3 linked regions of the Homo sapiens genome follow. The protein of the gene in region 3 purifies or fractionates together with the protein of the main gene of each other region. This does not show direct contact. Each region holds a gene or a part of one and is shown on either strand. Other genes may lie near its edges. The genes, in order: CUX1, TMPO and TCF7L2.

What was found.
Region 1: the proteins of TCF7L2 (region 3) and CUX1 purify together in Homo sapiens (affinity purification with mass spectrometry, with the first as the bait; 2 studies listed by BioGRID). This does not show direct contact.
Region 2: the proteins of TCF7L2 (region 3) and TMPO purify together in Homo sapiens (affinity purification with mass spectrometry; one large-scale study listed by BioGRID and IntAct). This does not show direct contact.

Annotation. Positions count from the first base shown.
Region 1 is NC_000007.14:101,820,495-101,824,147, forward strand, and holds part of CUX1 (Homeobox protein cut-like 1), read left to right. Parts: intron 1-3,653. UniProt on the Homo sapiens protein: May be involved in intra-Golgi retrograde transport.
Region 2 is NC_000012.12:98,546,569-98,550,321, forward strand, and holds part of TMPO (thymopoietin), read left to right. Parts: intron 1-1,004; coding exon 1,005-1,290; 3' UTR 1,291-3,753. UniProt on the Homo sapiens protein: May help direct the assembly of the nuclear lamina and thereby help maintain the structural organization of the nuclear envelope. Possible receptor for attachment of lamin filaments to the inner nuclear membrane.
Region 3 is NC_000010.11:113,145,633-113,149,285, reverse strand, and holds part of TCF7L2 (transcription factor 7-like 2), read right to left. Parts: intron 3,276-3,653; coding exon 3,189-3,275; intron 1-3,188. UniProt on the Homo sapiens protein: Participates in the Wnt signaling pathway and modulates MYC expression by binding to its promoter in a sequence-specific manner. Acts as a repressor in the absence of CTNNB1, and as activator in its presence.

The sequences.
Region 1 (3,653 bases), on a different chromosome or scaffold from region 3:
GAGTTATTGTAGAAATTACTTAAGACCTATTTAAAATTATTGAATACATAACTTTAAAAAATGTAATTGCTCTATGAAAAGTGACTTTTATTATAATTGTCAAAGACAGAAATTTGTCTGTCTTGTCCTTTTGTTTTGTCTGAAGCCCCGCGTTATCGCTGCAGAGAGAGAGTTTTGGTTTCCACCGAAATTTCCCTGCCTCCGATTGTTTAAACCAGACCCTTAATCTTATTTTAACATATTTAAAATGTTCACAAAACCCGGAAGAATTGTTTTGTGTAAGTAGCAAGCGAGTGTAGCTTAAACACTCAAGCAATTCTGGTATCTAATTGGAAACAGGTGGAATTCTTGGAATCCCATGTTTGAGTCTTTTTATAGCAAAGCCCAGGGACACTTTTCACTTATAGCCATTCGTTTTGTCGAAGCTATTTGAAGAGGGGCCCCACAGCCTCTCCTTATGTCCCACTGTTGCTTACCTGGACAAAGCAGTCGTGCTGGGCGCTTTAGGAACTGGATACCTGTGAATGCCTGGATGCCGAGAGAAGTGTGTGTGTGTGCCGATAATGGAGTGAAAAAGGAATCTAATGGTATAGTTAGACAAGCAATTTAATATCTGCATTGTTATATGACTTTAGAGCAAAGAATTTGTGAATTCATTTGTGATTTCTGACTTGATGAACCTTGACTGACCAGAGCATGTAGGTACATTTTATTATACCCCAATAATGATATAGAATTCAGAGAGAAGATACTCCCCCCCGCCCCCAAAAAAATTCTACATTTAGAGAATATAAGCTCCACCAGCAACCATAAAAGTATTAACTTGGTGAGGGGGATATTTTCTTTCTTTTTTTTTTTTTTTGAGACAGAGTCTCGCTCTTTCGCCCAGGCCGGAGTGCAGAGGCACTATCTCAGCTCACTGCAAACTCCGCCTCCCGGGTTCACACCATTCTCCTGCCTCAGCCTCCCGAGTAGCTGGGACTACAGGCGCTGGCCACCAGGCCTGGCTAATTTTTTGTATTTTTAGTAGAGACGGGGTTTCACCGTGTTAGCCCGGATGGTCTCGATCTCCTCACTTAGTGATCCGCCCGCCTTGGCCTCCCGAAGTGCTGGGATTACAGGCGTGAGCCACCGTGCCCGGCCCCTATTTTCTTTTCTTTTCTTTTTTTCTTTTTTCTTTTTTTTTTTTTTTTTTTTTTTTTTGAGACGTGGTTCTGTCGCCCAGGCTGGAGTGCAGTGGTGCGATCTCGGCTCACTGCAAGCTCCGCCTCCAGGGTTCAGGCCATTCTCCTTCCTTAGTCTCCCGAGTAGCTGGGACGATAGGCGCCCGCCACCATGCCTGGCTAGTTTTTTTGTTTTTTTGTTTTTTTTTTTTTTTGAGATGTAGTCTGGTTCTGTGGCCCAGGCTGGAGTGCAGTGGCGCGATCTCGGCTCACTGCAAGCTGAGCCTCCCGGGTTCACGCCATTCTCCTGCCTCAGCCTCCGGAGTAGCTGGGACTACAGGCGCCCGCCACCACGCCCGGCTAATTTTTTCTATTTTTAGTTGAGACGAGGTTTCACTGTGTTAGCCAGGATGGTCTCGATCTCCTGACCTCGTGATCTGCCCGCCTCGGCCTCCCAAAGTGCTGGGATTACAGGCGTGAGCCACCGTGCCCGGCCGATGTTTTCTTAAATATTAATGGCAGGGCCCTCTGGATTGACTGTGTTATTTGACCCATTCCAGTTTTCAAGGCGTGGTCTTGAAAAGCTGTCGATCACCCTGGTTTTGGGATGTGTTTCAGAACCAAGTTTCGATGGTGTGTCAGTGTTGGATTTTCCTGCTGAGGACAGCTAAGGTTTGGTATGGAGCAGTTTTGGATTTGCTGAGCTGTAATCAGTCCAGCTTCTCTGCTGTCTTCTGAGAAGGTTGATGGAGGAGAGTGGTCTTTGGCGGGGATGGAGGTTTCCCTGCAGGAAATGAACCAGGACTGAGGGGAACCTGTGCCGTTCCCCTCATTTGTCCTGCGCCTGAAACAGCTTTGAAGCACCTGGCTTGTGACTTAAAAGATTTTTAAAAAGCATTTGTGCTGCCCTATTCGGGTATTACACAGTGAGGGTGAACCATTCTTTTCGAAAGACGTCTAAGGCCGGGCACGGTGGCTCATGCCTGTAATCCCAGCACTTTGGGAGGCCAAGGCAGGCAGATCACTTGAGGTCAGAAGTTCGAGACCAGCCTGGCCAACATGGCAAAACCTCATCTCTACTAAAAATACAAAAATTAGCCTGGCGTGGTGGCGCATATCCATAATCCCAGATACTCGGCAGGCTGAGGCATGAGAATTGCTTGAGCCCAGGAGGTGGAGGTTGCAGTGAGCTGAGATCGTGTGACTGCTCTGCATGCAGCCTGGGTGACAGAGCGAGACTCTGTCTCAGAAAAAAAAAAAAAAAAGACATCTAATTTGTTGTAAAACCTGTCAAGAACCTTCCCTTTAAAAAGCTAATGCCTCTCTAATAAAAATAATTTTAATTTTGTTGTAATTAAATTCAGAGAGGATGATGTTAGTGCACAAAATAAAGATTGTCAATTTCTTTATTTTAATCCAACGGCATTTCCTAACTGCAGGAGGCCCAGGACCGTTGGCAGAAATTTTGTGTTGATTAGAGCCTCGGGCCATGGGAAGTGCAGGTACTGTGGCCACAAAGTTCGTCGCCCAATCCCTGGCTGACCCCACAAGCAGGACTGGTACAGATCCCACCCTCAGGGGTCTTCCTACACAGAGAAACATAATCACACAGGTGACTGGAACGGAGCCAAGGATGGTGGTGTTCCTCCTAGGGATTTACTAACACTGCCAGCAACTCAAGAACTAGCCAGCCGGGAGTTTCCTAGTAAGTGAAACTGACTTGGTTCTGCTTCCTTTCATGAAAACCTTTGTGAAAATGAGCCCAATAAGGGGTCCGAACCTTTATAAAGCACACGACCCCCCAGAGTGGACCGGGCCCTGGCCGACTCCATCAGCCGAAGCTTGAGATCTTGGATGGTCTGGATGGTCTTGACCGTGTGTGATTGATGCAGTTAACAAAGCAGGAAATTAACAGAGCTTACTCTGAGACACCAGGGAAGTGGCTTGTTCTTTCTTGGGGTTACTTTGAGTGGATGCTGGCACACTGCTTGTTTTCTTATAGATACCTTTCTATTGGGCTGTGTTTATTCAATAAGGAAATGCAGTTAACATTTTTTTAACAAGTAAACCATGGGTTATGAGGTGTTCCGAGTTTGGTTAAGGGAAAAACAAATTGACAAATTAGCTCTTTCTTAAGTGAGTATTGCGAAACAGTGAGAAATAGAATGCCTGTCGTACCGTCATTAAAAATTTATCTGGGTGTTGACAGCTTTTTGTTAAATGTAAGACATTCAGATCCTGTCCACCCAGCATATGAAAAAACCAAACCAAACCAAACCGAAAAACAAAATGCAACACAAAAGCTTCTTTCCATTTCCCCCCAAAAGCAAGACAATTTTTCTTAAACTGGGGCTTTCTCCCTAATGAATTGCCATGATTTTGTTTTCTCTAACATAGTTTAATATCTTTAAGACAGAACGAATATCAACTCTTTTTATTTTATTTTTTGAGACGGAGTCTCACTCTGTCGCCCAGCCTGGAGTGCAGTGG
Region 2 (3,753 bases), on a different chromosome or scaffold from region 3:
CAATGGTACATGCCTGTAGTCCCAGCTACTCAAGAGACTAAGGCAGGTGGATTGCTTAAGCCCAGGAGTTCGAGACCAGTCTGGGCAACATAATGAGACTCTGTCTACCCACCGACTTTTAAATAAATAAGTGAACGAACTGTTCTTTTGGGAGCAGTTTAATTCCCCTAAGCCCACCAGTAAATATTCTTGAAAGTTGAATGAGTTTCAAAATTGCGATTGGTAAATGGAGGATTTTAAATAAATCACTTACTTACTACTTAAATTCATATGTTAAAATCTAAACGAAAATCTAGTGAGAAATAGTTTTTCCCCCCTAAGTTTCTCTTTTCTAATTGAAAAGGCTGTGTTTATGTATCTTAATTTTTAACTGAAAGAAACACAGCCAAAACTGTTTTGTTTTTCCTCTTTACTCCTAAACATGAGCTTTGAAGAGCCTTTAAGAAGGCAGGTTTAGTGACTATTTATCAGTGTTCTGAATATTCTTTTCTAATAAAGGATGCATCGAACTTTTTTTTTTTTTTTGAGACGGAGTTTTGCTCTGTTGCCCAGGCTGGAGTACAGTGGCGTGATCTCGGCTCACTACAACCTCCACCTCCTGGGTTCAAGCGATTCTCCTGCCTCAGCCTCCTGAGTAGCTGGGATTACAGGCACCCACCATCATGCCCGGCTAATTTTTGTATTTTTGTAGAGACAGAGTTTCACCATGTTGGCCAGGCTAGTCTTGAACTCCTGACCTCAGGTGATCTGCCCGCCTTGGCCTCCCAAAGTGCTGGGATTGCAGGCGCGAGCCACCATGCCCAGCCCATCTAACTTTTAAAATAGAAAATATGTAGAAGTTTTAAATAGGTTGACTGACCTCACTGCTTTATATGTATCAATTTTCTACTGTTACCTCAGGGAATGTGCTTGGAATTAGGAGTGGCAATGACATTTTATGTTATTTCTCTAAATCATGCCTTTATCTAAAATTATTTTTCTTTTCCTCCTTTCACTCCCAACAGTGCTAGTTGCCGCAGACCAATCAAAGGGGCTGCAGGCCGGCCATTAGAACTCAGTGATTTCAGGATGGAGGAGTCTTTTTCATCTAAATATGTTCCTAAGTATGTTCCCTTGGCAGATGTCAAGTCAGAAAAGACAAAAAAGGGACGCTCCATTCCCGTATGGATAAAAATTTTGCTGTTTGTTGTTGTGGCAGTTTTTTTGTTTTTGGTCTATCAAGCTATGGAAACCAACCAAGTAAATCCCTTCTCTAATTTTCTTCATGTTGACCCTAGAAAATCCAACTGAATGGTATCTCTTTGGCACGTTCAACTTGGTCTCCTATTTTCAATAACTGTTGAAAAACATTTGTGTACACTTGTTGACTCCAAGAACTAAAAATAATGTGATTTCGCCTCAATAAATGTAGTATTTCATTGAAAAGCAAACAAAATATATATAAATGGACTTCATTAAAATGTTTTTGAACTTTGGACTAGTAGGAGATCACTTTGTGCCATATGAATAATCTTTTTTAGCTCTGGAACTTTTTGTAGGCTTTATTTTTTTAATGTGGGCATCTTATTTCATTTTTGAAAAAATGTATATGTTTTTTGTGTATTTGGGAAACGAAGGGTGAAACATGGTAGTATAATGTGAAGCTACACATTTAAATACTTAGAATTCTTACAGAAAAGATTTTAAGAATTATTCTCTGCTGAATAAAAACTGCAAATATGTGAAACATAATGAAATTCAGTAAGAGGAAAAGTAACTTGGTTGTACTTTTTGTAACTGCAACAAAGTTTGATGGTGTTTATGAGGAAAAGTACAGCAATAATCTCTTCTGTAACCTTTATTAATAGTAATGTTGTTGTAGCCCTATCATACTCACTTTTTAAGACACAGTATCATGAAAGTCCTATTTCAGTAAGACCCATTTACATACAGTAGATTTTTAGCAGAGATCTTTTAGTGTAACATACATATTTTAGAGAATTGTTGGCTAGCTGTACATGTTTTGAAAAGCTGTTTAGCTAGCTATAAGGCTATAATTGGAAATTTGTATTTTTTATTTACAGCAAAACATTTATTCAGTCATCCAGTTTGCTACCAAAATATGTTTTAGATAAGTGTGTGTATGTTTGTTTAGAAGTTAGAAATTGTAAACACTGGTCTTATGTTTCATTTGGATTCATTATTGCATTGTCTTGTTACCAGAAACAAATTTTGCCGAGCTTTTTTTGCCCTATATTTCCCAGCATAATTTGATTAGAAAGTACAAAAAGGGCCAGGCGCGGTGGCTTACGCCTGTAATCCCAGCACTTTGGGAGGCCAGGGCGGGTGGATCACGAGGTCAAGAGATCAAGACCATCCTGGCCAACATGGTGAAACCCCGTCTCTACTAAAAATACAAAAAAATTAGCTGGGCGTGATGATGTGCGCCTGTAGTCCTGTCTACTAGGGAGACTGAGGCAGGAGAATCGTTTGAACCCAGGAGGCAGAGGTTGCAGTGAGCAGAGATTACGTCACTGCACTGTAGCCTGGCGACAGAGCAAGACTCCATCTCAAAAAAAATAAAAAAGTACAAAAAGTACTTGCTTTTATATTACATCATAAGCAGTAGTTAATAAAGTTGTATACTCTTAAGAGGTGGGCATTATGATTATTTTTTATTTTTTTATTTTTTATGAGATGGAGTCTCACTCTTGTCACCCAGACTGTAGTGCAGTGGCACGATCTGGGCTCGATGCAACCTCTGCCTCCCAGGTTCAAGCAATTTTCCTGCCTCGGCAGAGACGGGGTTTCACCATGTTGGCCAGGCTGGTCTCGAACCCCTGACCTCAAGTGATCAGCCCACCTCAGCTTCCCAAAGTGCTGGGATTACAGGTGTGATCCACTGCACCCGGCCGGCATTATGATTTTGTGTACTCTTGAAATGGTTATCTTTGTGGATGATTTTTTTTTTTAAGCTGAAACTTACCTCATGAATAACTTGATTAAAGTAGTAGGTGATTAAAATTTCAATAGAATCAAATGAGACAAAAATTTTAAACTGACTCATTTGAGTTTCAACTTTACAGTCATTGACCATAAAGCACACTAAAAATGTAAGTTATTTTTAAATACATCTGAAATAAAAATACTTACTAAAAAGGAAGAAGCCGAAGATGTATATTTAGACCAGCACACAATTTTGATTTCAATTAGCCTTATTCTAATATTTAGCTTTTAGATCTTTCATACACATTTTCACGTACTTTGCAATTGAGACCAGAAAGACTTGTAGGTCTTTCTGCAGAATGAGTGGGTCCTTGCAAAGTGAGTGGGAAACTTACTCCTAGATCAGAAATGTTTGCCTCTCTGAGTAAAATGTTTCTTTCAGATGAGCCATAGAGGGGGCACCTTTTACTCAACTTTTCTTTGTTTTGAAACTTTGTTTCCCATACTGTTTTCAGCCTTTTGTTTATAATTAGAAATTGTGAGAAGCTTCATTTAGTGTTTAAAAATGTGGGGAGATAAATCAGACTTAACATGTATGTAAGATCAATTCACTTAAAAGTATGGTCCAAATAGCAAAAATAGGACCAGGTGAAACATGTAGTCATTTTTTAAAAACATGTACTTGGTCTTTTGTGTGTGTCTGTTTTATTCCATTAGAATAAATGTGTCCTTGATGTAAATGCAAAGCATTTCTTCCTGATTAAATTGTAGATGTAGACTTTACAATATAATTCAATAATAAAAAGTAATTAACCTCTAGTTTTGTCG
Region 3 (3,653 bases):
CTAACAACCTTCATCTTCATCCCCTTCCTCTCAAAATAATGTGAAAAACAAAAAAAGCAAAACCCCTTGGGAGACACTTGGGCTCCAAGTGACACCCTGTTCCTTCCCACTGCTCGAAGGCCTCAGAGGAAACAGAAGTTAAGAACATGTGTTCTTGGAAGCCCTTGGGTGAAGTGGTGGGTGGCAGCTTTTACTGTGAATTTTGAAGGCCTGACATTCCTCAAATACATATGTTCCCTTCCTGCAGAATGAGAATATGTGTACAGACGTGAGAGGGAGAGGGAGGGGGAGAGAGAAAAACACTGCATGTGTGAGTGTGTGTGTGTACGTGTGTGTACATACACCAAATACCACGGGAAGGCACCACAATCTGAGTACATTTTGGGGTGCAGACAAACTTCTAATGCAGCCATGAAGAAGGCACATTTCTAAGTTCCCATACCTACGCGTATATTCCCATATCTGAAAAATGTTCAGCAAAGAAAGAGACCATGTGTGAACATGGATGTGGGCTGTATACACATACCTTCGCTTAAGAAATTCCTTTCTGCAGACTACTATTTCATGAAATGCAATAAACACCCTAAAAATTCTAAGCAGCTCATTATATACCCCCGTCTGCTTTCATGGCTCCAAGCCAGAATATAATGATGAACCTTAACTTGTTAAGAACAACTAATTTTTGTTTCTGGCTGTCTCAGGGGCTTCTCTCTTACTCACTCTCACTTTACTTCACTGTTGACACGTTTCTGTTAACCGGATGTCATCTGCCGGCCTTGATTTTATGCACAAGCAGTAGGATGCATTTTCCTGTGCAACAATCCTGCTTTGAGTTGCATTAGGTTTGTCATTATTCTCTCATTTTCCCCCTTGCACTTGTAACATTTCATCTCTTCCTGCCTTATTTTTTGTGAGCCACGGTGCACCCACATTATGGTTTATACATGATCTCGCTCCCTTTGAAGCCGGCAGATTTCAGAGCCGGCTCTCGTCAGGAGAAGAGCCTTGCACCAATTTAGCAGGCTGAGGGCCCGGAGCTCCAACATCTCAATCTAAAGGGGGTCACAGGGTGGCACAAGTGAGTGTCAGCAAGAGCTGTTTAATTGCCAATCTAGGCTTCTCCATGGTGTTTAAAGTATAATGACCCATCACTTAATTCTGAGAAGTCCTGGCCCCACTGCTGAATAGAATGAATATCAAAGGGTGTTCTGGAACAGGGCAAGCTGCCTACATTTGCTATAACTGCCATAAGTATAATAGACCTATACTTCTGTCGCCCCATTATCACAATAATGTATTTAATTTGCTGTATATGCTTTTTAACTAGCTATCTTTCATTTGGCCTACCTGGGGAGTCGGCCGCCTCTCCCCGCACCTTGAGGCCCTAACCTTTCTTCCTGACGTTCCCTGCCTTTCCTCCACCCCCATGCCCACCTATAATTCATCGACTAACCTCCTAATGATAATTCAATCGATCAGCTTAACCCCAATCCCTATCCTACAATTACTTTACCACTGTTAACCTCCAGAACGCACCAAATAAACAAACATGAAAAATAACCAGGTGTAATATACAAATGCTGGGAAGGTGGGAAGATGAGCTGTGGAGTATAAGCTGCTACACTAATAGAATGACATGTAGCCGTGGTCCCTGGGTGCTCTCCACCTGGGAGACCCCCTACTCATTCCCATGCTTTGCGAGGCTGTGATGACACTATTTAATAAGTGTTACGCCTCCTCTTCTCTCTAGGCCAGAGAACACACGAGCGTTTTCCTACCTAACTAATACTGGCATGGATTTTGAAATTTTGATGATATATCGCAGGTAGAAAATGGATCTCTTCAACTATGATATCCACGGCATAGTTACCGATGCTAGATATGCCACGGTTTGTTTTTCTTAATGAATGTAACTCTCTATCACTGCTAAAGTTACTGTTTTGTAAGTAGGAAAAGCAGCATCTTGACCTGTCTTTCCAGGCCCTTCTCTGGTCTTGGCTTCCCATGTTGGCCACAGGGACTGGGGAAAGAAGCTGGGGACAGCACCCCTGCCATGTAACGCATGCTAATTTCATTATGTGCCATCATCAGAATGGGTTGGTGATTTCAGACCATCAGCAAAGTCTAAACCTCCACCGATTTAATTAACTTGACTGAAAATCAGATGAACAGAAAATAAAACTATCATTAGAAACAATTAGCGACTAAAACATACTGCTGCCAACCAGTTTGTAAATAAACTAGCAGTCACTGAAAAATTAGCCAGAATTAATCAGAGGGAGGAAAAGAAGAACATGGGGATAGGAATGTATCTTGTAAATATGTTTCTACGCTGAAATATAAATATATATGAATGTACAGCACACACACACATGTTTTTTTTTAACTTTCAAAGACTTAGAGCTGCACAGACCACTATGATATGCACCAGCCACGTGTGGCTATTGAATATTTGAAATGTGGCCAGTCTAAACTGAGAAGTGCTGTGCGTATAAGATACACATCAGATTTTGTACCAAAGCTCAGCACAAAAAAGAACATAACATCTTATTAATAGTTGTTGTCCAGGAATAGCATGTTAAAATGATAATATTTTGGCTATATTGCATTGAATAAAAACATGTCATTAAAAATAACTTTATCTTTTTTTTAAAAAAAAAAAAACAAAAACTTTTTTAAAAACACGGCTACTACGAAATTTAAAATTCCCTCTGTGGCTCACACTATATTTCTATTGGACAGTGCTACCTTCGAGGGGAGGAGGCGGATGCTTTCTTGTTGACTTGCAATCAGAGTCTGAGCTTTGAGAACACCAGTAATCTTTTTTCGAACTCTTCTTGGTATAATAATAAAACTACCTTCACCGCTACCTTTCTTGCTGAGGACAGGACAACAGAGAAATGGCATTTTTAAAAGCTTCTGTCCTGTTTCTCCCTTACCTTCTTAATTCATTAAAATACATTGTTCAACTGAGTGACTCAAAAATTTTACCCAGAAAGACATCATTTACCTTGGAATTTCAGGGCAATTTTTCAGGATTTTCTGGGAGTACAGCCTAATGCCACATTGGCTTTACACTAATAGAACTACATGTAGCTGTGGTCCCTGGGTGGCTTGGTGGCCATCTAGAGAACTTCTTGAGAAGTCACACATGGCCTTGGATGAAGGCCCCGGTTCTTGGAACTCACCTGGACATGGAAGCATTGACGGTCAGAGCTGTGGGGTAGGGGTGTCTGAATCCTCCTGTCGTGATTGGGTACACTGGTTGACCTTGCCTACAAAGAAGGGGTACAAAGTAAGAGACTTGAAACAAGGGTGGGGGTGGGGACAAGAAAAAGAAGAAAAGGGAAAAGTTCTCTCTGCACAGTAAGCTTTATTCTCATTTGATCAGAACAAAAATCTTGGGGATTGTACAGGAAGGATCAAAGGGAAGAAACACAGAACAATTTGAATGCCATAAATCTGATAGGAATGGCTAATTAAATTTTATAACCTCTGCTTATGTCAATAGAGACCCTCTCCCCAAGCTGAAACTAGGTGTTTTGTTGTAATAATTAAAGGCGAAGTCTCGCTTGCTTTAATGGAGCCATCACACTAATTGAGGGCTACACATCCAAAGGAAAACAATAATGAATGTAAATTTATACCAAAAT